3 linked regions of the Homo sapiens genome follow. Each later gene encodes a partner of the first gene's protein in a complex. Each region holds a gene or a part of one and is shown in the gene's direction. Other genes may lie near its edges.

Region 1 (7,576 bases):
TCTCTGCACCTCTCATGAGTGGTCAGGGCCCACTTGAAGTGATTCTAGATGAAAACTCTGCATCTCTTCTTCTGGGGCTGGGGTCCCACCCAAGAGGACAATACTGACCCACGATGAATGACAAATATACAACTCACCTTTGCAAGGTTGGGAAGGGGTAGAATGCAGGGTAGAATGAGGAGCCAGAGTTTCAGCATGGTGTTGACAGAGATCAGTAGCTTTGGATGACATATCTGGAGTCTAAGGATATCTTCAAAGTCTGAGGCTATCTAAACTGTCTTCTACAAGAAGCAATTCAACTGGGACCATTGGAGATTCCTACCTGTAGGTCTCCACATAGAGGAAAGACACAGTCTCATAGTAAATAATCATAATAACAATAGCATCATCATCAATAAGAGCAATGGTTTTCCAGAGGCTGAGCAGCTGGGGAGATGGAGAGTTGCTGTTCAATGGGTATACAATTTCAGTTATGCAAGATGAATAAGTTCTAGAAATCTGTGTACAATATGGTACATATAGTTAACAATACTATTTTGTGCACTTAAAAATTTGTTGGCCGGGCGCGGTGTATAAAGCACTTTGGGAGGCCAAGGCAGGTGGATCATGAGGTCAGGAGACTGAGACCATCCTGGCCAACATGGTGAAACCCCATCTCTACTAAAAACACAAAAATTAGCTGGGTGTGGTGGCATGCGCCTGTAGTCCCAGCTACTTGGGAGGCTGAGTCAGGAGAATCCCTTGAACCTGGGAGGCAGAGGCTGTAGTGAGCGGAGATCGTGCCACTATCCTCCAGTCTGGTGACAGAGCGAGACTCCGTTTAAAAAAATTTTTTTTGTTAAGCAGGGCCCAGTGCAGTGACTCATGCCTGTAATGCCAGTGCTTTGGGAGGCTGAGGCAGGAGGATCGCTTGAGGCCAGGAGTTTGAAACCAGCCTGGACAACATAGCAAGACCCTATCTCTACAAAAAATTTTAAAAACCACTCAGGCATGGTGGCTTGCGCCTGTAGTCCTAGCTATTCAGGAGGCTGAGATGGGAGGATTGCTTGAGCCCAGGAGTTTAAGCTAACAGTGAGCTATGATTGGGTCTCTGCACTCCAGGCTGAGCGACAGAGACCCTGTCTCAAGGAAAAAATAAATAAATAAAAGGGCTTTATCTGTTAGAGATAAAAATAGATGAAGAAAATATGGACAAATGTTAACAATTCCTAAGTCCTGGTGATGAATATATGGAAGCTCAATGTCCTGTTCTCTCTGCTTTTCTGTATGTTTTAAATATTCCATCTGGGCATGGGGTGGCTCATGCCTGTAATCCCAGCACTTTGAGAGGCCAAGACAGGAGGATTGTTTGAGCCCAGGAGTTTGAAACCAGCCTGGGAAACATGATGAGACCCTATCTCTTAAAAAAAAAAATTAGCCAGGCATGGTGGCTCATGCCTCTAGTTCCAGCTACTTAGGAGGCTGAGGTAAGAGGATTGCTTAAGCCAAGGAGTTCACGATTGCAGTGAGCACTGATCATACCATTGCACTCAAGCCTGGGTGACAAGGCAAGATCCTGCCTCAAAAATCCTAAGTAAAAATAAAAATAAATTTGCCCCAGTGAAAGTTTAAAAATGAAAAAGAATGAAAACAATGATTTATTTTTATTGAGCATCTACCATGGACTAGGTACTTTACTTACACAATCTTTTATATAAATATTTTTCTTTCTTTCTTTATGGCCAGCTCTTACTCATACTTGTATAATCTTATTTGTTTTCTTTTTTGTAGAGATTTTTAAAACTTTTTATTTAGAAATAATTATAGTTTCACAGGAAGTTGCATTAATAGTACAGAGAGGTCCTGTACGCCCTTTACCAACTTCCACTAAAGGTTAAATCTAACATAACTATATTCAATATCAAAGCCAGATAATTTATATTGGTACAATGTGTGTGTGTAGTAGTTCTATGACTTTTTTTTTCTTTCTTTTTTTTTTTTAGACCGAGTCTTGCTCTGTCGCCCAAGCTGGAGTGCAGTGGCACAATCTCGGCTCACTGCAACTTCTGCCTCCCGCCTCCCGGGTTCAAGCGATTCTCCTGTCTCGCCCTCCTGAGTAGCTGGGACTATAGGCGCATGCCACCACACCCGGCTGATTTTTTTTATTTTAGTAGAGACGGGGTTTCACCATGTTAACCAGGATGGTCTCGATCTCCTGACCTCGTGATCCACCCGCCTCGGCCTCCCAAAGTGTTGGGATTACAGGTGTGAGCCACCGCGCCTGGCTTTTTTTTTTTTTTTGAGACGGAGTCTCACTCTGTCGCCTGGGCTGGAGTGCAGTGGCACGATCTCGGCTCACTGCAACCTCCACCTCCCGGGTTCAAACGATTCTCCTGCCTCAGGCTCCTGAGTAGCTGGGGTTACAGGTGCCCGCCACTACCCCCAGCTAATTTTTTGTATTTTTAGTAGAGACGGAGTTTCACCAACAAGGCTGGTCTCGAACTCCTACCTTGTGATTCGCTCGCCTGGGCCTCCCACAGTGCTGGGATTACAGGCGTGAGCCACCGCACCCTGCCAGTTCTATGACATCTTATCACCTGTGTAGATTCTTGTAACCACCACCACAATCAGGATACAGAATTATCCATCAACACAAAGATCTCTCTTGTGCTACCCTTTACAGGTACACTTCTATCTCCCCATCAACCCTAACACTAGACAATCAGAAATCTCTTCTCCATCTCTATAATTTTGTGATTTTGAGAATGTTACTTAAATGAAATCATACAGTATGCAACCTTTCATAAGGCCCAGTAGATATTGCAAGATTCCTCTTGTAAGAAACCATCTCCTTTTCCCACGCAGTTTCTTAACTTTCCATAATGTTTCTTTTTTGCGGGGAGTGGGGGGTCGGAGTTTCACTCTTGTTGCCCAGGCTGGAGTGCAATGGTGCGATCTTGGCTCACTGCAACCTCTGCCTCCCGGGTTCAAGTGTTTCTCCTGCCTTAGCCTCCTGCTTAGCCTCTTGAGTAGCTGGGATTACAAGCACCCGTCACCACACCGGGCTACTTTTTTGTATTTTTAGTAGAGATGGGGTTTCACCAAGTTGGCCAGGCTGGTCTCGAACTCCTGACCTCAGGTGATCCACCCACCTCAGCCTCCCAAAGTGCTGGGATTACAGGCGTGAGCCACTGCACCCGGCCAATGTTGACTATATTTTCAAAGGCAAAAACCAAGGCAAGATATGTCCATCTGTACAAGAGTATCATAGCAGCATTATTGCATAATAGGCAAAAACTGGAAACAATCCAAACATCCACCAACGGGAGAATGGATAGATGAATTGTGGCATACTCATACAATCAAACACTAGACAGCAATAAAACAGAAGGAATAACAGATGCACACAACAATATGGAGGAAATCTTACAGGTACATTGAGCTAAAGAAGTCAGGCACAAAATAGAAAATAATGTATAATTCCATTTACACGAAGTTCAAGAACAAGGAAAACTAATTGATGGTGATAGAGGTCAGAATAGTGGTTAACTTCGAGAGGGGGTATTGATGGGGAAGGAACACAAGATAACTTTTTGGGGTGCAGGAAGTATTTTATATCTTGATCTGGATGGCGGTTATACAAATGTACATATATAGATACATATATATTTAATTAAGCTTAACATTCGTGTATTTTATGCACTTTATGAATGTTATACCCCAATCTTTAAAAATCAGGGCACAAGTTTGGCAAAGATGAGTCTTCAAAGCAGTAGAAAGGTCAATTGTTTAAAATTAGGATGGTCTTGGACAATTAGGGAAGCTTATGATGACCACACAGAAAATGTCTAGCCCACCTTTTCCAATGGGCAATGTGCCCTTGCGTCATTAATTTACATCTTGTAAATTTATTTTACCAGGAAATTGTGTGACAAATCAAGGGACTGAGTATTGTTTCCTTGTTTCCTTCTTTTTAGTGGGGAATGAGTGAATGGTGCAGTTTGAAGAACACATTAAGTCTTGAAAGTTGGAAAGTTCACCAGTACCCTTCTTTCCCTCACCCAAGATTAGCCCTGGTGGCAGCCGAAATTGCTTTTATTATCTCTTTGTGGCTGAGGACCTCTAACTGTTGAAGAAAACATATTTTACACGTCTTGTCTTTCTGCGAACAGGAAGCCTATCTCGCTTATCTTTGCAACCCCAGACGGGGCTTAGTGTGACCTACACACAGCAGTAATCGCACAACGTCCCGTGGAGCACTGCTTCTCAAATTTGGCTGTACATACGAATCACCTGGGGAATTTTAAATTGTATTGCTGCCTGAGGAATTTTAAACTGTACTCCCAGAGATTCTGATTTAATTGAAATGAGGTGAGTCCTGGGCACTGGGATGTTTAAAAACGTTCCAGGTGATTTTAACGCGAAACAAAAACAGAACCGCTGTTTGGGGGCGTTCTTCCTTCTCCACGCCTGATTTGCGCACAGGAGTCGGCTGTCTGGAACGGGGGTGAGGTTCACAGGTGTCTGTCGCCACGCCTCTTCCTACAGAACCAATAAACTGAAGCCGCTCGGTGACATCCCAAAGGACTTGAATTCTGATCGGGCTGCAGACGCTCTGCACCCCGCCCAAGCTTCTATGGTACTTTGGTGTCCTCTCTAGCACTGGCAAGTCGCCTTCCTCTTCGCCCGGCGCCAGCCGCTCCCTCTCTATGATCGCCGAGTTCCCGGCGCCGTCTCGTTGGTATTTAATTCCGGAAGCGAGTTTGAATCAAAGAAGAGGCGGGACTTTCCTCCCGGAAGTAACCCACGTGCTTCCGCTGGAGCCTCTCGGGAGGCGGGTAACGTTATAGTATTTGTCAGAAGTTGGGGTCTCCGTGGGCATTGTGATCCGTCCCAGGCAGTGGTAAGTGACACATGACCTCTGAATTCAATGTGGCCCTGATGATGGCGTCGCCATTTCAGAGGTGTAGCCTTTGGGCTGGGTCCCGGTCGCCTCTGTTCAGCGTATGATCCCATTCCCAGGGCCCTGGAGGTTCAGGTTCGTGGGTTAGAGAGTTCTCCTCCGGTCCTCGATCTCCTGAATAGAGGTGACCTCCAGGAACTGGGGCATCAGAGATCCGGGGCTCGATTTCCAGGCTCGCCATAGACGTCCTGTGCGACCTTGGGCTAGGCCTCAGTTTCCACATCCGTGAAATGGGGTGGTTAAGCTCACTGAGGTTAGTGGCCCGTGGTGGTCTGGCGCCCTGTGAGTCCTCTGTATCCTCTAGCCCCAGGGGTAGGAGAGTGAACGGCGGCGGTGGGTGCTGATGGTGATGTCTGCTCCCAGGATTAGGAGGCCAGAAGGAGATCCCTTCCACGGTGCTAGGCTGAGATGGATCCTCTCAGGGCCCAACAGCTGGCTGCGGAGCTGGAGGTGGAGATGATGGCCGATATGTACAACAGGTAAAGAGAACTATGTGCTACCCTGTCTTGGAAAATAAGTCTTGGTCACCCTTATCGAAGGTGAATGACTTATGACAAATTCCTTCCTGAATGTAGGGGAGCCTGAGGCCCATGCTTACCCTCCCCACACCCACCTTCAAGGTTGATCCTAATGTAGATGCAGTAAAGGGTCACTAGAATGAGTTGGGCATTTAGATGGGGATGGAACTGGCAATGCAGGAGCCAAGCAGGAAGAGAAACTCCAATCCAGGCTCTGGTTAGGTTCCAAGAAAAGCTGAGTATTTGCCTCTTGACAAATAGCACATAGCCAGCCCATTTAGTAGTTAACATTTTAAAACCCTTTATTCTGTGTCAGGCACTTGTTAATCTTCAAAATAATCCAGTGGGTTAATTTTATTAGTCCCGTCTTAAAATGAGGAAATTGATGATTCTAGAGGTTAAGTAACTTCCTTAGGGTCGGCAGCTGGTCAGTAACAATGCCAGAACTAGCACCTCAGTCTGATTCTGCAACTAGTGCTCATAACCATTTGGCAAATTTGGGAACAAATCCTGGCTCCACCAATCACCAGCAGTATAATTGGACATGTTACTTGCACTGTTTGACAATTGGTTTCCTCATTATGAAGAAGACATAATGATACCTACCTCATAGGACATCATAAATATTAAATCTAAAAATATATGAAAGCCCTTAGCCTCAAGCCCAACACTTAGTGAAATGTCTGCTATTTTTATTGGCTTAAGCTCTCTTGATTGGTTGGTTTATCCTGAAGGCTATAAATTAGAAGGATTTTTAAGTGTAGACTGTGAGGTCAGATGACCTGGCTTCATAACCCAGCTCTGTGTGATCCTTAGAAAATTACTGAGCCTCTGTTTGCCTTAATTTCCTCATCTGTAAAATGGGGATACATGTCTCTTAGGGTTATTGTAAGCATTGCATAACAGAATGCAGGTAAAGCACTTAGCAGGATGCCTGGCATGTAGCCAGTCCTCAACAAATGGTTTCTACTTAGTTAGTCATATACATGGACTTAGACAAGTTTCCTACTTGCAAGGACCTTCCAGTGGTTGAGGTGTAAACTGAGGATTTACACTGCTTTCTTGGGGGAGGTGAAATCAATATAGCAGGGCTGGAATGGTCAAGGTTCCTGGGATGTCACAGGATGCTGCTGACATGACCTTGCCCCTCCCTCCCTCCAGAATGACCAGTGCCTGCCACCGGAAGTGTGTGCCTCCTCACTACAAGGAAGCAGAGCTCTCCAAGGGCGAGTCTGTGTGCCTGGACCGATGTGTCTCTAAGTACCTGGACATCCATGAGCGGATGGGCAAAAAGTTGACAGAGTTGTCTATGCAGGATGAAGAGCTGATGAAGAGGGTGCAGCAGAGCTCTGGGCCTGCATGAGGTCCCTGTCAGTATACACCCTGGGGTGTACCCCACCCCTTCCCACTTTAATAAACGTGCTCCCTGTTGGGTGTCATCTGTGAAGACTGCCAGGCCTAGGCTCTCTGTAGAGAGTCTTCAAGATCCCGGAGTGGTAGCGCTGTCTCCTGGTGAAGGAGTATTTGTCACACTGGAATGTGACTGTGTGTGTATGTATGTGTATATATATATATATATATATATATATATATATAAACAAGTTTGTTGACACCTACTATGTGCAAAGCAGTGTGCTTGGCATTTGAGAGTAAAGAAAACAGACACAGCCCCTACCAGCAGAGGGAGATTAATGAGTGTTTAAGAGTAAGACAGGCCGGGCAAGGTGGCTCATGCCTGTAATCTCAGCACTTTGGGAGGCTGAGGTGGGTGGATCACTTGAGGTCAGGAGTTCAAGACCAGCCTGGCCAACATGGCAAAACCCCGTCTCTACTAAAAATACAAAAATTAGCTGGGTGTAGTGGCGGGTGCCTGTAATCCCAGCTACTCAGGAGGCTGAGGCAGGAGAATCGCTTGAACCCAGGAGGCGGAGGTTGCATGAGCTGAGATTGTGCCACTGTCCTCCAGCCTGGGCAACAGAGTGAGACTCCATCTCAAAAAAAAGTAAGACAGCTTAGGTTTGCCTGCTGTCTGCTGCTTTTTGTGTGGCCCTGCACCTGTCACTTTTGTGTGCTTTAGCTTCCGCATCTGTAAAATAGGGTTAGCCCCCTGACTAAT
Region 2 (7,045 bases), about 51 Mb from region 1:
TTGTGGGCCTAGGGTTTTTGTACCCCAGCTCAGGGGGTGATTTTTCCCAGTTATGTTCCTGGGACCAGCAGCCAAATCCTCCAACAGGAAAGGGCCAGGAATTGGAGGGAGGGTGATCTGGAAAGGCCCAGGGGTTGAGGGGGTGAACACTCTACTCCCCAGCTAGGCTGCATTTCCTCATTCAATAATGGGGAGGGTCTGAGGGGAAGGTTAGTGTTACAGATGGAAAGGTGGGCTAGGGTCAAGGGGGTGGGGTTGGCACCTTGTTTTCTTCCAGGAACTTGAGCTTGATGGCCACATCTCCCCGCAGCTTCTCATACTTGTCCCGATGGGCCTGGAAAGTGGCCTGGGCACTCTCAAGTCGACCACGTGTCCCTGCATCCCGGGGGCCTAGACTCAGCTCCTCTAAGTCTGTTCGGTAGGCATCATATTCCAGCCTGGGGAGGGGGTGATAAAGGCTGGTCTCCACTCCTTTATCCTCAACACATACTCTCCTTTCCTTCCTGAATTCTTATGCCCCTAATGCCCAAATTTCCACCCATACCAGCCAACTCCCCAAACCCTAAGCCCTGCCAGTGCCCACACCTGGCAGCCTCATACTGTTTCACAGTCATGAGCGTGTCTTCCATGGTCTTGGTGACCAATGTGTTGATGCTAGAGACAAAGAAGTTCACGGCTCCTAGCAGCGTTTCCCCATTCTTGCATAGTAGTTTCTGTGTCTCTGCATTGTAGCCAAATTCCTCCTGAGGGCAGAAGGGAGGAACAGACCTTGAATAACACTCCCTACCTGACTGAAGCTGTAGAGCCCTTCATTCCCCTCCTCCCCGGGGAGGACACAGCCAGCAAAACTGGAACAACCAAGGACTGCCTCCAGCAAGGCTCTCTTAGCCGGAAAGTTAGTGGGATCACCCTGGGGATACCTGGGGTAGGAATGTGGGTGGTGGGCATTCTTGGGTAAGTTCACAAGACTGGAACAGTCTGAGAGCTAGTGTGGCAAGCAGGGGAGGGGCTCTGATTAGGCTGAGCACGAAGGCATTCTCCCCAGTGCAGAGAGGGGTTATTTGTGAGGCACCTAGTGTGCCCCCTCCCCCACCCCCTCCAACTTCTGGACCTCTGTACAAACCCTTAGGCTGCCTCCACAGGTGAGTGCTGCTGGGGGTAGGGCTGGGCCCACCCTGAAGGGGTTCTCCCTGTGGGCTGCAGGAGGGAGGGAGGATGAGGAATGACTGCCTGGGAGGGCCCATGCCCAGTTCCCCCACCCTCTTTGGTCTGGGTGAGGCACCTGAAGCTCTGGGGACTTCTGGCTGAGGTCAGCAAAGGCATCACCCAGTGCATGCTGGGTCTGCAGCAGGCTGTAGAGGTGGGCTGTCAGTGCCCGGCCCAGCTGCAGGACACTCTCATACTTGCGCTTCGTCTCACGCAGCAACTCAATCTGCAGCTCTAGCTCCAGGTCCACAGTCCGTGAGCCTCGACCAAATCGTTCTGATAACAGTTGCTTTGTGCACTGATTGGGAAATGGGGGAATAAATCAGAGACCCTAACAGCCTCCCCACACAACAGGTATCTACCCCAGCACCCCCCAGGCTCCTACTCTCAGCCACAGATGGGATATTACGATCACGAAGAAAAGGGAAAAAGGTACCCATAAGGAGTTTTGGGGAAGGGAGAGGTGCTTAAATCCTACCTTATAGGTGTTGATGCCCCATTTCTTGACGATGTCAAACTTTTCTCCAGCAATGCCCCGAGCCACCTCATCTCCAGGGCCAGAAGGAGTGGTGCTGTGAGATGGATGGCGGCCAGACCCTAAAGGATCAAGTTCTCTGACACCAGCCTCTCTCAGATACACCAGACACCTCTGTGGCCCCACCCATACTTCTCTTCGAGCACATGAAATTGACTTCCCTGAAGGAGATGCTAGAGACAACTGGATGCTCCTGCTTACTAGGAGGAACTCGGACTTTGCGCGGTGAGAACCAAATCCTGATATACATATGGCCTCCTTGGGGGTTAGAGGAGGGGTTTGCAGGGAGTTGTTGGTGTACAGGGGCAGAGGAAACAGAAGAAAATACACTGAGTTTGGGGGCAGCAGGAGTCAAGGATGGTGGGTCATGATAACAAGAAACCTGGTTGCATTCCCATGTGGAATCTTAGTGTGAGATTCAGGGCTGTTTGTTCCTCTAAACTTTAGAATCTAAAAATTCTGAGAAGCTTCACAAAGTTCCAACTCAGCCTCAAGCTGTAGAGGGGGGGCATTCCTGTGAAGCAGGTCTTAACTTGACTCAGGTGGTGGCAGGGAAAGGACAAATGAGCCATTTCAGGGGCTAAGTGGCAAAAGGGAAATGGATGGACAACGCTGGGAGTTGCTTTTGGGCTGAGGAGAGTCCATGAGGTTCCTACAAGCAGAAGTTCCCAAGATCTCCAGACATAATTCAAGCTTTCCTAGACATATCCTATGCTTCCCCAAACCATTCCTGTCCCCTCCTCCACCCAAGATTCCTGTTTCTGAACATTCATACCTGTGGGGATGAGTCCATCACCAGAGCCCCCATAGCCACCAGACACAATGCTGGTTTCATTGAGGTTGGGTCCTGACACCATCACCTGCTGGAGGTCCTATAGGCCAGAGAAGAGGGGTTGCTTCAGGAACATAGGGGCTGCAGAAGCATTTTGGAGGTGGGAACAAGTTTGGATTCAAGCATCATAAAGATAGTACACAAGGGAAGTCTGCACAGAATCAAAATGATACGTAAAAAGAATGAAGGGAGTCAGATAAGTCAGGGGAAGGCTACTGGAATGGAGGGTGAGAACCTAGGATTTATAAATTGGATTCCTAAATTGAAACAATTAGAAGAATCAAACAGAAGCACCTGCTCCAGCCCATCATCTTCAGGAAGCTGCCTGGCTTCGCCGTTCCCGTGGATAGGGATCTCCATTGTGGCTGCCTTCCCTAGGATCCCGTCCGTCATGGCTAGGAAAGGTATTGGAGTAAAACTCTCCACCCCAGCACCCTGCAAAGCCCAACACAGAAGTTCTGGACACTGGCCAGCACTCTAGAAGAAGGAGGCCTCCTCTGTCATTTCTTTAAAGGCTGTCCCAGGGTTTGAGTGTCCCAGCGTTTGGCCATCATTCCTTTCTTCAGATATATGTATTTCTCCCCTCCAAAACGCACATTTGAAACAGGCACACCAAAGCACGGTGTCTTCTCACAAGCCCCCAACCTCACCAGGACTCTGGTGATTATTTCTACACTCATTCAGCAGACATTTAGTGAGTGCCTACTATGTGTCAGGCACTATTTGTGACAATGAAAATACAACAGTGAAGAGGGAAAGTCTGCTCTCTTAGAACTTATCTCCATGCAGGCGTGTTTATGCTGAGGAGATGAACCCTTTCCAGGGCTCAGGTCTTCACCCCCCTATTCAGGTTTGTTCTCCATTGCTTGGCCTTTCACATTCCTTTAGCGTTTCTTCCCCCTTCCTTCAGGGGGTCTCCCCTCCTCCGTCTCATACACCTCGTCTTCCTCGGGCCCTCCCCACCAGGCCTTAGTTAGATCAGTGGGTGTATGTTCCCAGTCTCTGGTAAAAGCCTCTCTCTCCCAGGATATCGGTGACCCTTCCACAGTCAGTTATGTCTCCCAGGTGTGTGAGTCCCCGCCCCCACCCCCATACACCTGGACATCAGGTGTGTCCTCATCCTTCCCCGGGGCTCGGGGCATCTTGCCCTCTGGACAGGTTTGTGCGTTCAACTTCCCGTCGCCCAAGCATGTTCCTCTCACCTCGGGCCGGGCCGCTCTTCCCCTCAGGGCGCCAGGCCCGGGCCGCGCGGGGACCTCGGGCTCCAGTTCCCGTCGCGATCCTAGCAGCAGGTCAGGGACTCGGCGGAAATGACGTCCTCTCCGGGCAGAAGAAGCCGGCCACGTCGCAGATTATAAGGGCGGAGCTGACGTCGCAGCCAGGGCAGGGCGATACTCGAGCTAGCTCTCGAGATCAGCGAGAGGTTACTTCCGGGGCGGCACCGAGAAGCTGAAACGGAAGTGGCGTACGGCATGCGCCGGTGGCGTGATGGAGCGGCAGCAGCAGCAGCAACAGCAACTGCGAAACGTAAGTGAGAACTAAGTCGTTTCGAGGCCAGACGTTCAGCTCGCATTCCTGCACACATCGCGGGAACCCCACAGGGCCAGGGATTTGAGGGCTGGAAACTTCGGGCTATGGCGCGCGGGCCTGGGAAACTTTGGGCGGCGCGACCTTGACTAGAAGTGTGGGGCCCTTATCGCTGAGTTTGTGGTCCCCCTTTTCTCTCAGCTGCGTGACTTCCTGTTGGTCTACAATCGGATGACAGAACTCTGCTTCCAGCGCTGTGTGCCCAGCTTGCACCACCGAGCTCTGGACGCTGAGGAGGTGGGGAACTGTGTAGGGAGGTTACGCTGCAAGAAGAGTTTAGCGGTAGACTGCTTCCCTCCTCACCCCACTTCCCGTACCTCTGGCCCTGGCCTTCCCACGACCCTCACCCCTAGGCTGGGCATGGGGAAGAAAGGAGGCGGACCCGACAGGGCACCTTTATCCTCCACTTAAACCCTATCTTCCTTCTAGGAGGCCTGTCTGCACAGCTGTGCTGGGAAGCTGATCCATTCCAACCACCGCCTCATGGCCGCTTACGTGCAGCTCATGCCTGCCCTGGTACAGCGCCGCATCGCAGACTACGAGGCTGCCTCGGCTGTGCCAGGCGTTGCTGCTGAACAGCCTGGGGTCTCTCCATCAGGCAGCTAGCCATACCCAACCCCAGGAAGGAAGGCCTTGGATGGACCCTCAGATTGAAGGACCCGGTGGACCTTGGGGTTGGTGAATCCTAAACAGAGAGAATTCGAGGTTGCCTGAAAGCTGGGTGTCCTTGCTCCTTTTCCTGGAGCCAATATACCCAGTTTTTACTCAGTTTGATTTATATTCTGGGCAAGGAAGCTTTGCCTACTTTATTGGCACAATCCGTTGTTCTGTCGTTTAGTGCATATCTGCTGGCTTCAGCCCTGGCAGCTGAGAAATTGTTTTCTATATGTAGAAGGAAAACCTGAGCATTTGCAGGCATCTGGTTAAAGCAGGGTCTGTGTGTACAATTTTAAAACGGGTAATATGTCATGCTCTTAGTTCATCTTCACAACAAAACTATGAGTAAGCGGTATTAGCCTCACTTAACAGATGAGGAAGCAAGATTCCAGAAAGTACCAGAAGGTCATTTTATACAACAGGAGATTGGTTCCTGCCCAGATGACAGAAAATGGGAGCTCTGTCTAGTTGTCCTTAAGTCTGACTGACTTCAGTGGCTCATAACCGTGAGCCAAGTATTTGTTGGTTCATAACTGTTGTTTTGTGAACTATGTCTTACATGTCTAGAGTTCTGCTGGATCTAGGGAAAGGAGGAGCTATCGAAGTACAACGGATCAAAAAACCACAGGGCTTTTGGGCACTGCCTCCTTGGGAAGTTAGTGGCCACAGAAGAGAGATGAAACCTGTAAGAAGTCTGGAGTCTTTTGGAACTTCAGCCATTTCCCCAGGTTGTTACTTTCTTAGTATGTACAGTCTTCTCAGGATGAGCAGTAAAACCTTTGAACAAAGGTCTGTGTGGTTGTCTTCACGGGCAATCAGGAAGGGAGAGAGCTGGGGACCATATTCTGCAATGCAGCCAAATCCGAGGAAGAGAAACTGAAGGGAGAAGTAGATGGCAATGGTTATGATAAAAAGGGATAAAACTAAATCTTCGGGACTTCTTTAATGCTACGTTAATGTTTCACTGCTCGTCTAGAAACTCCTAAATCCAGCTTTCTATCATCTGCCCCACATTGGTCCCATTGAGTACATTCTGTGATTTCTAATTCCAGCCTCTCCATTCTTTTCTCATTATTGCCTCCCCCGCCCCCCAACTTTGTGTAATTTACTTCTGTATTCAGCAGCCTGGATAGCATATCATTCCATCACCCCATTTTCTTGCCACCATTGGCCATCTTTTTGTATCATTCCACTTATTCTGTCTTTTCCATTCCTTCATTCAAACTGCTAGAGAAAAACAGTTGTGTAATGAATGCCACTAAATATTCAAGGCCTCCAACCTCAGCCAAGTCCTCACACCAACACGCAGTCACACCAACACACACCTTTATGGGTTCCTGGTCCATTTCCTTCTCTAATTACCATGGCAGTTATTTTACACCTCTACTGCTGTCCTTAATCCCATACCCCACCCTCATCAGGTGACCCTGTTTCCTTTTTTAGAGAAATTGAAGCTCTTAGACATTGGTTTCCACAGTAATAATTTTAAAACTTCTTACAACTACCTACAAAGCAGATGTTCTATCCTATCTACAGAGCAGAAAATTGAAATTCTCAAGTAGCAGACCCGGTATTAAAGTGCAGATCTGACTTTAAAGTCCATGTTCATTTTACACAGCAGGCTGCCTCTTAAGATAGTATTTATTGAGCACACACTTTGTGTAGGTTCTGATTTTGGTAGATGTCATGCTTTATATTAATCTTTACAACAACTATAAGTAAGAGGTATTAACCTCACTTAACAGATGAGGAAGCAAGAATCCAGAATGTGCCAGAAGGCACATTCTGCAGATTTCGTGCAAACATTTATACACAGCTTCTTTTTTTTTTTTTTGAGACAGAGTCTCGCTCTGTCACCCAGGCTGGAGTGCAGTGGAGCGATCTAGGCTCACTGCAACCTCCGCCACCCGGGTTCAAGCAGTTCTCCTGCCTCAGCCTCTCGAGTAGCTGGGATTACAGGCATGCGCCACCACGCCCAGCTAATTTTGTTTTTGTATTTTAAGTAGAGACGGGGTTTCACTGTATTGGTCAGGCTGGTCTTGAACTCCTGACCTTGTGATCCGCCCGCCTCGGCCTCCAAAAGTGCTGGGATTACAGGTGTGAGCCACCACGGCCGGCCTATACAAAGTTTCTTATTGAGAAAAGTGGTTCCAATCATGTTTTTTGCCCCCTTTAGCTGCTATCTCTTGAACAGAAAAGTTTGTTAGGAAGGTAAAAGTTGCTGACTA
Region 3 (6,979 bases), on another chromosome or scaffold:
CAGATCACTTGAGGTCAGGAGTTTGAGACCAGTCTGGTCAAGATGGTGAAACCCTGTCTCTACAAAAAAAAAATAGAAAAATTAGCTGGGTGTGGTGGTGTGCACCTGTAATCCCAGCTACTCAGGAGGCTGAGGCAGGACAATTGCTTGAACCCGGGAGCTGGAGGTTGCAGTGAGCTGAGATTACGCCACTGCACCCCAGCCTGGACAACAGAGGGAGACTCCGTCTCAAAAAAAAAATTTATAAACATATCTAATACTAAACCTCTGCAATAGGTTGGTAATAACAAGATAACCTTCACCATTGCAAACCTTATTCTGGATTTTATAGCTTCTAGTGATAGCTTAATTTGGGAAGAAAAACTAATTTAAAATGAAAATAATAAAAACTATAAGACTACGTAATAAATGTTTAAAAATAAATTCTACCCTTAAGAAGAAAATTCTGACACATACTACAACATGGATGAACCTTTAAAACATTATGCTAAGTGAAATAAGCCAGTCACAAAAGGTCAAATACTATATGATTCTACTTATATAACGTACCTAGGGTAGTCAAATTCATAGAGACAAAAAGTAGGATGCCCAGGGCTGAGGGGATGAAAAATGAGCAGTTAGTGTTTAATGGGTAGAGTTGGGAGAGATGACAAAGCTCTGGATATGAAAGGTGATGATGATTGTACAACAATGTGAATGTACTTACTGTCACAGAACTGTACATTTTAAAGTAGTAAACTTTATGTTATGTATATGTTGTCACAATTTAAAAAAATCAATATTATTCTTTTACCTTTTTGCTTGTTGTTCTCTTCTATTTTATCCAAAGGCAACACTTGCACTGCAACGTCTTTAGAAAAATCCTTTGGGATATGAAAGGAAGAAATAGGCTAAATAAACTTCATGATTTATTATTTATCAAGAACCGTTTACTAGCTATGTGACTACTGTGTTCTGGGAGGGCAGGACTGTGTATTTCATATTCTTCATTTCCATCATCATGCAATTCTGATGTACCTTAAAGCTACTCAAAGATTTGTTGAATGGGTGAGTAATACACTATCAGACAAGTGAATGAATGAGTAAATGAACCAGCAAGCAAATGTAGCACTGAGATTCAGACTCAAACCAGTTTGCCACTTGTAGCAGAGCAAGTCATTTAACATCTCAGTTGCTTCAGTGAAATGTGAAAATCTGACTCACTGTGAGTCAAATGGAGTAGATAAGGATGGCACAACATCACGAAGATCACCCATTTATTCTCAATTATACAATAACAGTGTATCCATACATTTGAGAAGTTTAGATATCATTAAATAAGGCCTGCTTAAAAAAAAAAAAGACAAAACAACAAAAAAACACTCCAAAGTCTAGGCATTTACTTAGGGATCAAGTACAGCAAATAATTATACATTTTATTGTGAGCTTTTGACAAAATTGTCATATAGTCTCAATTGAATTATTAGTTTGCCAGCTTCAATTTTCAAAATAGCATATTGTGAAACTCTCATTATACAGACTTATTAAACTGACAATACATAGGTCAACACTATGATTAGCCGTCAAAGTCTGATTAGATCTCATAACCAAAACATTGTATTTATCAAATACTTTCGGCATTATAAAGTTAAGATGATAATTTCATGTTATTCTTAAAGAACCTCCCTTCTAAGAAAACCAAAACCATTCTCACAAGTGTTAGAATGACATGCAAGCACACCTCACATTAAAGAAAAATTGTACTGTTAGTTGTTCCTTTTCTTTTACCTAAGAACATGTTAAGTCTCTGGGCAAGAACACCTTTTCCCTGAATAGTAAGAGAGTTTCTTTTCAGTTATCCTATCTCTTTCAGCGGCCATTATCTTACTAATAGGTATTTTTGATTCTAGGGAAGGCCTTTTGTTTAATGTCTCAAACACCATTCAAAGTCACAATTGTAGTATATAAAACATTTGTTTTGGTAAGTGATATTTAAATAAAAACAAGGCATGCTGCTAATCAAACATAATTTAAGAATGCATTATTTGACAATACTGAAAATTTTAACGTGAGCATAATTAAGAATCCTTTTGCTTACACTTTCTGACACCATGGGATTTTCTAATAGAGGCTGGTAACAATTTCTAGCAGAAGTTAAGTCTGATGAACCTAACAAAACAAAGGAATAGATTTTAGTGATTTTAAAATCAGATCCTTAGCTTTAGAAACTGTATATGCATGATTCAAGATCTATAAACTCCATATAACGCAGAAGTTGGAAAGACAATTTGCATGCAAAAAAAGTTAAGAAAATGTATTTAAACATATCTGAATGAAAGTTTTTACAGTTGATATTTGGGAAAATAAGGTTCGGTACTGACAATAAAGTGAGATTAAGCACGAAACATTTTAAAATATAACCATACACTATTGGATGTGGACAAACTATGGGTAGAAATATGTATACGATGTAAAGGTCTAATTTAACAGCAGTACTATTTGAGTGTCACCGCTGTATCCCCCAAAGAACAGCATTACAAAAGCGTTTTGCTGTTTTTGCTCACATATTCATTAATTTAATCCTCACAATTAGCAGCGAAGTGGGTAAAGCATATGTTATCCTTATTTTCACTGAGCTCTAGACAGATTAAGTGAATTGGAATATAGAAGCCATCAATTGGCAGAAGTCCTGCTTTTCCCACTATGAAAAGAAAGTAGTGAATTAGGTAAAAAGCACTACTTTGGGGGAAAACTATAAAAAACACTACGTGGGGGAAAATAAAGCACATTATACAAGTTAAGTGTATCCACCATAAATATAAAAAAAAAAATATGCAAAAGTCAATGCAAAAAAAAAAAAAAAAAGCACAACAGGGGACGTTAAAGTTTCATTCATTCCATCTATTCAAACATTTTATAGGCTTCCTGGCCATTTTCCCGGGAAACAGGGTCAGTTTTCAAACATCTGTACAAACTAGACTTATATCTTACGTTTGGGAATTTAAACAAATAAGGACTAAAGATTTACTAAACTAAAACTGGTTGAAAAACTACATGGAATCACATACCACGTGATGTTCCATTCAAACTAGTCCCCGTTCCAACAGGAAGACGTTTATTTGCAGACAATGCCGGAGGAACACAGGGCAACTCATCTTTCAGCAAAACCAAATGATCTCCATGATTTTGAGAAACTACCTCACGAAGTCTCTTCACTGGCATCTTAATCTTTTTTTTCTTCTCCAAGCTGACCTCAGAGCCTTTCATATTGTTGGTCACAAAACAAGTCCCACACTTAAGGACGGAAAAACTTTCTCTGTTTCCTTAAGACTTCAGAACAAAATTTTCACCTCTTTGCAATAACTGTTTTTAAAATGTCGAACATCCACAAAGCTGAAAATCTAAATTCTGATATTGAATCCAGGATTAGAGCTGACTATAAAGTCATATTTACCCATTAATCCCACTCAGTCTATTAATACACCACGCCAAAATGTGAAAGTGGGGATGACAAGAGAATGGCCACAGGAGCAACAATAACCATAACAGTGCACTCCCCAACCCCAGAGCTGGTAGGGCAAAACCAAACACATGTAGTGGCGGGCTTAAAATTTGTTGAGAAGAGGCAGTCAAGCAAATAAAAGCGAAATGCTATTTTTAAAATAATGACCCACATAAGAAGCGTAATAGCTTTCTTCAGCCACAGAGTCTTACACACCCCTCCAGATGCAATCGTCGGAAACATAAATTCACCCCTACGTATCTCCAGAACGCCCGAGACCCGCACCGTCGTGGGTGTAATCTGACAACAGCGTCAGTTGCCCGCAGGTCAACACCCACTTCCCTTCAAACCCGCCCTTGAGACACAACACGCATGCGCGCCAAGAAACTCACCCAAAACATCCAACCAGAAAGCTAAGCGCTCTCTGGTGCTCTTCCATTCCTCTCCGGGTGGAAACAAACTCCGGACATAACAGGGGTTTATTTATTTATTTATTTTAAGGTAGCACATTGCCGCACAAGACCGCTCTACAGTCTCATCCAAGACTTGAAGAGCTCCCGACTTGTAATACTACTTGTGTTTACCAGGGACTGTTGACACTGCTTCGCTTCCGAAGACCGTTAGGGACGTGGGATTAGGTAAATTAGGCTTCCAAGAAGTTTCGACAGATTCGGGTCATTATTGGAGAGGAAGTCGGGAATAGAAAGCGTTGTCTAAGCAGAAAATAACCGAAGTTAATCCTTAGGAGATTTTAGAATTCGCTGATGGTACCTGCTTTTTCTTCTAGATTTCCTCGCGTTATAACGAATCGGCGTCTAAGGGTTTAAGTGTCACTTGACATTACTGCTCCCACGTGTTCTTTCCCATCTGGCGGCCGCGGCTCCTGTCCAGACCCTGACCCTCCCTCCCAAGGCTCAACCGTCCCCCAACAACCCCCAGCCTTGTACTGATGTCGGATGCGAGAGCCTGTGCTTAAGTATGGTGTCTGTTCTCTGCCGTGAGAATCCGGGGTTCCCGGACGGGGGGTGGCAGGCTACGCTCCAGGAAAGTGGCGGGGTCTCCCGAGGAGGCCGCCGCACGTACCTGGAGCAGTGGGGGGTGCGAAGCGGGACAGCGCTTCGCCGGGTCGGGTGCAGACCTTCCTGGAGATGGTGTCACCTGGGCGAGGGTAGGAACTTTAGGCCCTGAGCCACCCCCAACCCGGATCTGGGGAGTCGGGGTCCTGTTTTGGGACACTGAATTAGACTATAAGGTATTTACGATGTGACCTTGAGCTGCCCGGGGGAAGATCCTCCTTTAAATGAAAATCGTCTTTAGACATAATACCAGGTCTAACACCCCTTCCCTGATCTGCTCATTTCCCAGGATGCGCTACTTAGAGCTTTCCCTTTACGCCTTACTGGAGGCTTTAGAATAATCAAAGCAGAAAATGTAATCCGATCTAAAAGCTAAATAACTAATTTTATTTCTTTTACATCTCGGCAGTCTACCTTCATAGAAGTCTAGACTTAAAATGGACTTTAAAGTCTGAGCGCGGTGGCTCACGCCTGTAATCCCAGCACTTTGGGAGGCCAAGGCGGGCGGATCACGAGATCAGGAGTTCGAGACCAGCCTGGCCAGCAAGGTGAAACCCCGCCTCTACTGAAAATACAAAAAATTAACTGGGCATGGTGGCGCGCGCCTGTAGTCCCAGCTACTCAGGAGGCTGAGGCAAGAGAATTGCTTGAACCCGGCAGGTGGAGGTTGCAGTGAGCTGAGATCGCGCCATTGTGCTCCAGCCTGAGTGACAGATCAAGACTGTCTTAAAAAAAAAAGAAAAAAAAAGACTTTAAGGGCTCAGCGTTAAAGACCCTTTTAATTATTATTTTTTTGTAACTTGCTGAGTTTCTCTAATGAGTTTTGTGTTGTTTTTTGAGACAAAGTCTCACTCTGTGGCACAGGCTGGAGTGCAGTGGCGCGATCTTGGCTCACTGCAACCTCCGCCTCCCAGGTTCAAGCGATTCTTCTGCCTCAGGCCTCCTGAGTAGCTGGATTACAGGCGCCCGCCACCACGCCCAGCTAATTTTTTTTGTATTTTTATTAGAGACGGGGTTTCACCATGTTGGCCAGGTTGGTCTCGAACTCCTGACTTGATTCACCCGCCTCGGCCTACCAAAGTGCTAGTATTACAAGCGTGAGCCACCGCACGTGGCCATTATTTTTTATTTTAGTTACATTTTCTCTTCGTAATTGGGCTCATAGGTGGTACTTGTTTGTTCACAATTTATTGTATATTATGAGTGTACTGAAAGAACTACAATGTCAGAGTCGCCAGAGACCTTGGAGATAGTTTAACTCTTACCTTCTAGGTGAAACTTATGTGAAAGAAACAGTGACCTAAGATCTGAGTGTAGGCACTCTGAATTATTAAAATGACAACTTAATTTGGATCTTACAGCTCTTTGTCATTACTCTTTAGTTCCTTTCCCTCTTTTTTTTTTTTTTTCCAGAGACAGGGCCTTGCTCTGTCATGATCATAGCTCCCTGAAGCCTTCAACTCCTGAGCTCAGGCAATCCTCCTGTCTCAGCCTCCTGAGTAGCTAGGACTACAAGCACTTGCCACCACGCTGGCTAATTTTTTACTTTTTTGTAGAAACTAGGTCTCGCCTTATTGCCCAGGCTTATTTTCTCAGCTCACTGCAACCTCTGCCTCCTGGGTTCAAGTGATTCTTCTGCCTCAGCCTCCCAAATAGCTGGGATTATAGGCACCCGCCACTCTGCCCAGATAATTTTTGTGTTTTTAGTAAAGATGGGGTTTCACCATGTTGGCCAGGCTGGTCTGGAACTCCTGACCGCACGTGATCTGCCCACCTCAGCCTCCCAAAGTGCTGGGATTACAGGCGTGAACCATCATGCCTGGCCTTATTTTCTCACTCTAAATCAGCCCTCTCAACCCCTTTTCTTTATGACTGACACTTTTGAAAAGACCAGCCAGGTTGTCTTACAAATTGTTCCATGTTGTAGATTTTCCTAATTATTCCCTCATGATTAGAGCCATATCAAACTTTGGCCAGAATACCACATAGGTGATGCTGTCTTACTGCATCCCACCAAGAAATACCTAATGTTGGCACCCATGTTTGTGATGCTAGGTTTTATGACTTAGCTTATACGTTTTTTCTTTGAGACAGGGTCTCTTTCTGTCACCCAGGCAAGAGAGCAGTGGCGTGATCATGGCTCACTGCAGCCTCAAGCTCCTGGGCTCAAGTGATCCTCCTGCCTCAGCCTCCTGAGTAGCTGGGACTACAGGTGCACACCACCATGCCGGCTCATTTTTGTATTTTTTGTAGAGATGGGGTTTTGCCATGTTGCCCAGGCTGATGTAGAACTTTTGGGCTCAAGCTATCCACCCACCTCAGCCTCCCAAAATGCTGGGATTGAGCCACTGCACCTGGTCAGTCACTTAGCTTATAACATATATTTGGCTATTTGGAAAATATTTTTAGATAGATGATATGT

What was found. Proteins that work in one complex are often made in the same cells at the same time.
Region 2: the proteins of TIMM10 (region 1) and TIMM10B are in contact, whole or in part, in a cryo-EM structure (PDB 7CGP), measured with the Homo sapiens proteins. Residues at the interface, in NP_036588.1 of Homo sapiens: Ala6 (codon at 5,366), Leu9 (codon at 5,375), Leu13 (codon at 5,387), Glu16 (codon at 5,396), Met17 (codon at 5,399), Asp20 (codon at 5,408), Met21 (codon at 5,411), Arg24 (codon at 5,420), Ala28 (codon at 6,632), Lys32 (codon at 6,644), Cys50 (codon at 6,698), Asp52 (codon at 6,704), Arg53 (codon at 6,707), Cys54 (codon at 6,710), Ser56 (codon at 6,716), Lys57 (codon at 6,719), Tyr58 (codon at 6,722), Asp60 (codon at 6,728), Ile61 (codon at 6,731), His62 (codon at 6,734), Glu63 (codon at 6,737), Arg64 (codon at 6,740), Met65 (codon at 6,743), Gly66 (codon at 6,746), Lys68 (codon at 6,752), Leu69 (codon at 6,755), Leu72 (codon at 6,764), Asp76 (codon at 6,776); in NP_036324.1 of Homo sapiens: Gln7 (codon at 4,080), Leu11 (codon at 4,092), Leu14 (codon at 4,302), Arg15 (codon at 4,305), Phe17 (codon at 4,311), Leu18 (codon at 4,314), Leu19 (codon at 4,317), Tyr21 (codon at 4,323), Asn22 (codon at 4,326), Arg23 (codon at 4,329), Met24 (codon at 4,332), Thr25 (codon at 4,335), Glu26 (codon at 4,338), Cys28 (codon at 4,344), Phe29 (codon at 4,347), Val33 (codon at 4,359), Pro34 (codon at 4,362), Ser35 (codon at 4,365), Leu36 (codon at 4,368), His37 (codon at 4,371), His38 (codon at 4,374), Arg39 (codon at 4,377), Leu41 (codon at 4,383), Glu46 (codon at 4,590), Leu49 (codon at 4,599), His50 (codon at 4,602), Ala53 (codon at 4,611), Gly54 (codon at 4,614), Ile57 (codon at 4,623), His61 (codon at 4,635).
Region 3: the proteins of TIMM10 (region 1) and TIMM9 are in contact, whole or in part, in a crystal structure (PDB 2BSK), measured with the Homo sapiens proteins. Residues at the interface, in NP_036588.1 of Homo sapiens: Glu16 (codon at 5,396), Met17 (codon at 5,399), Asp20 (codon at 5,408), Met21 (codon at 5,411), Arg24 (codon at 5,420), Ala28 (codon at 6,632), Cys29 (codon at 6,635), Lys32 (codon at 6,644), Cys50 (codon at 6,698), Arg53 (codon at 6,707), Cys54 (codon at 6,710), Ser56 (codon at 6,716), Lys57 (codon at 6,719), Tyr58 (codon at 6,722), Asp60 (codon at 6,728), Ile61 (codon at 6,731), His62 (codon at 6,734), Arg64 (codon at 6,740), Met65 (codon at 6,743), Gly66 (codon at 6,746), Lys68 (codon at 6,752), Leu69 (codon at 6,755), Leu72 (codon at 6,764); in NP_001291414.1 of Homo sapiens: Lys15, Leu18, Gly19, Tyr21, Asn22, Lys23, Thr25, Glu26, Cys28, Phe29, Leu30, Val33, Asp35, Phe36, Thr37, Thr38, Arg39, Glu40, Val41, Glu45, Thr46, Glu50, Leu53, Leu57.

What each region holds. Positions count from the first base shown.
Region 1 is NC_000011.10:57,527,964-57,535,539, reverse strand, and holds TIMM10 (mitochondrial import inner membrane translocase subunit Tim10), read left to right. Parts: upstream 1-4,785; 5' UTR 4,786-4,882; intron 4,883-5,246; exon of another isoform or gene 5,247-5,305; 5' UTR 5,306-5,350; coding exon 5,351-5,421; intron 5,422-6,621; coding exon 6,622-6,823; 3' UTR 6,824-7,076; downstream 7,077-7,576.
Region 2 is NC_000011.10:6,477,456-6,484,500, forward strand, and holds the start of TIMM10B (mitochondrial import inner membrane translocase subunit Tim10 B), read left to right. Parts: upstream 1-4,045; 5' UTR 4,046-4,061; coding exon 4,062-4,100; intron 4,101-4,301; coding exon 4,302-4,397; intron 4,398-4,589; coding exon 4,590-4,766; 3' UTR 4,767-7,045. Other genes in the region: ARFIP2 (arfaptin-2), read right to left, coding at 263-437, 586-743, 1,283-1,504, 1,685-1,902, 2,517-2,613, 2,868-2,966. UniProt on the Homo sapiens protein: Component of the TIM22 complex, a complex that mediates the import and insertion of multi-pass transmembrane proteins into the mitochondrial inner membrane.
Region 3 is NC_000014.9:58,424,532-58,431,510, reverse strand, and holds the start of TIMM9 (mitochondrial import inner membrane translocase subunit Tim9), read left to right. Parts: upstream 1-3,979; 5' UTR 3,980-4,119; intron 4,120-4,268; 5' UTR 4,269-4,457; intron 4,458-6,979. Other genes in the region: KIAA0586 (protein TALPID3), read right to left, coding at 794-863, 2,078-2,148, 3,048-3,273, 3,874-3,882. UniProt on the Homo sapiens protein: Mitochondrial intermembrane chaperone that participates in the import and insertion of multi-pass transmembrane proteins into the mitochondrial inner membrane.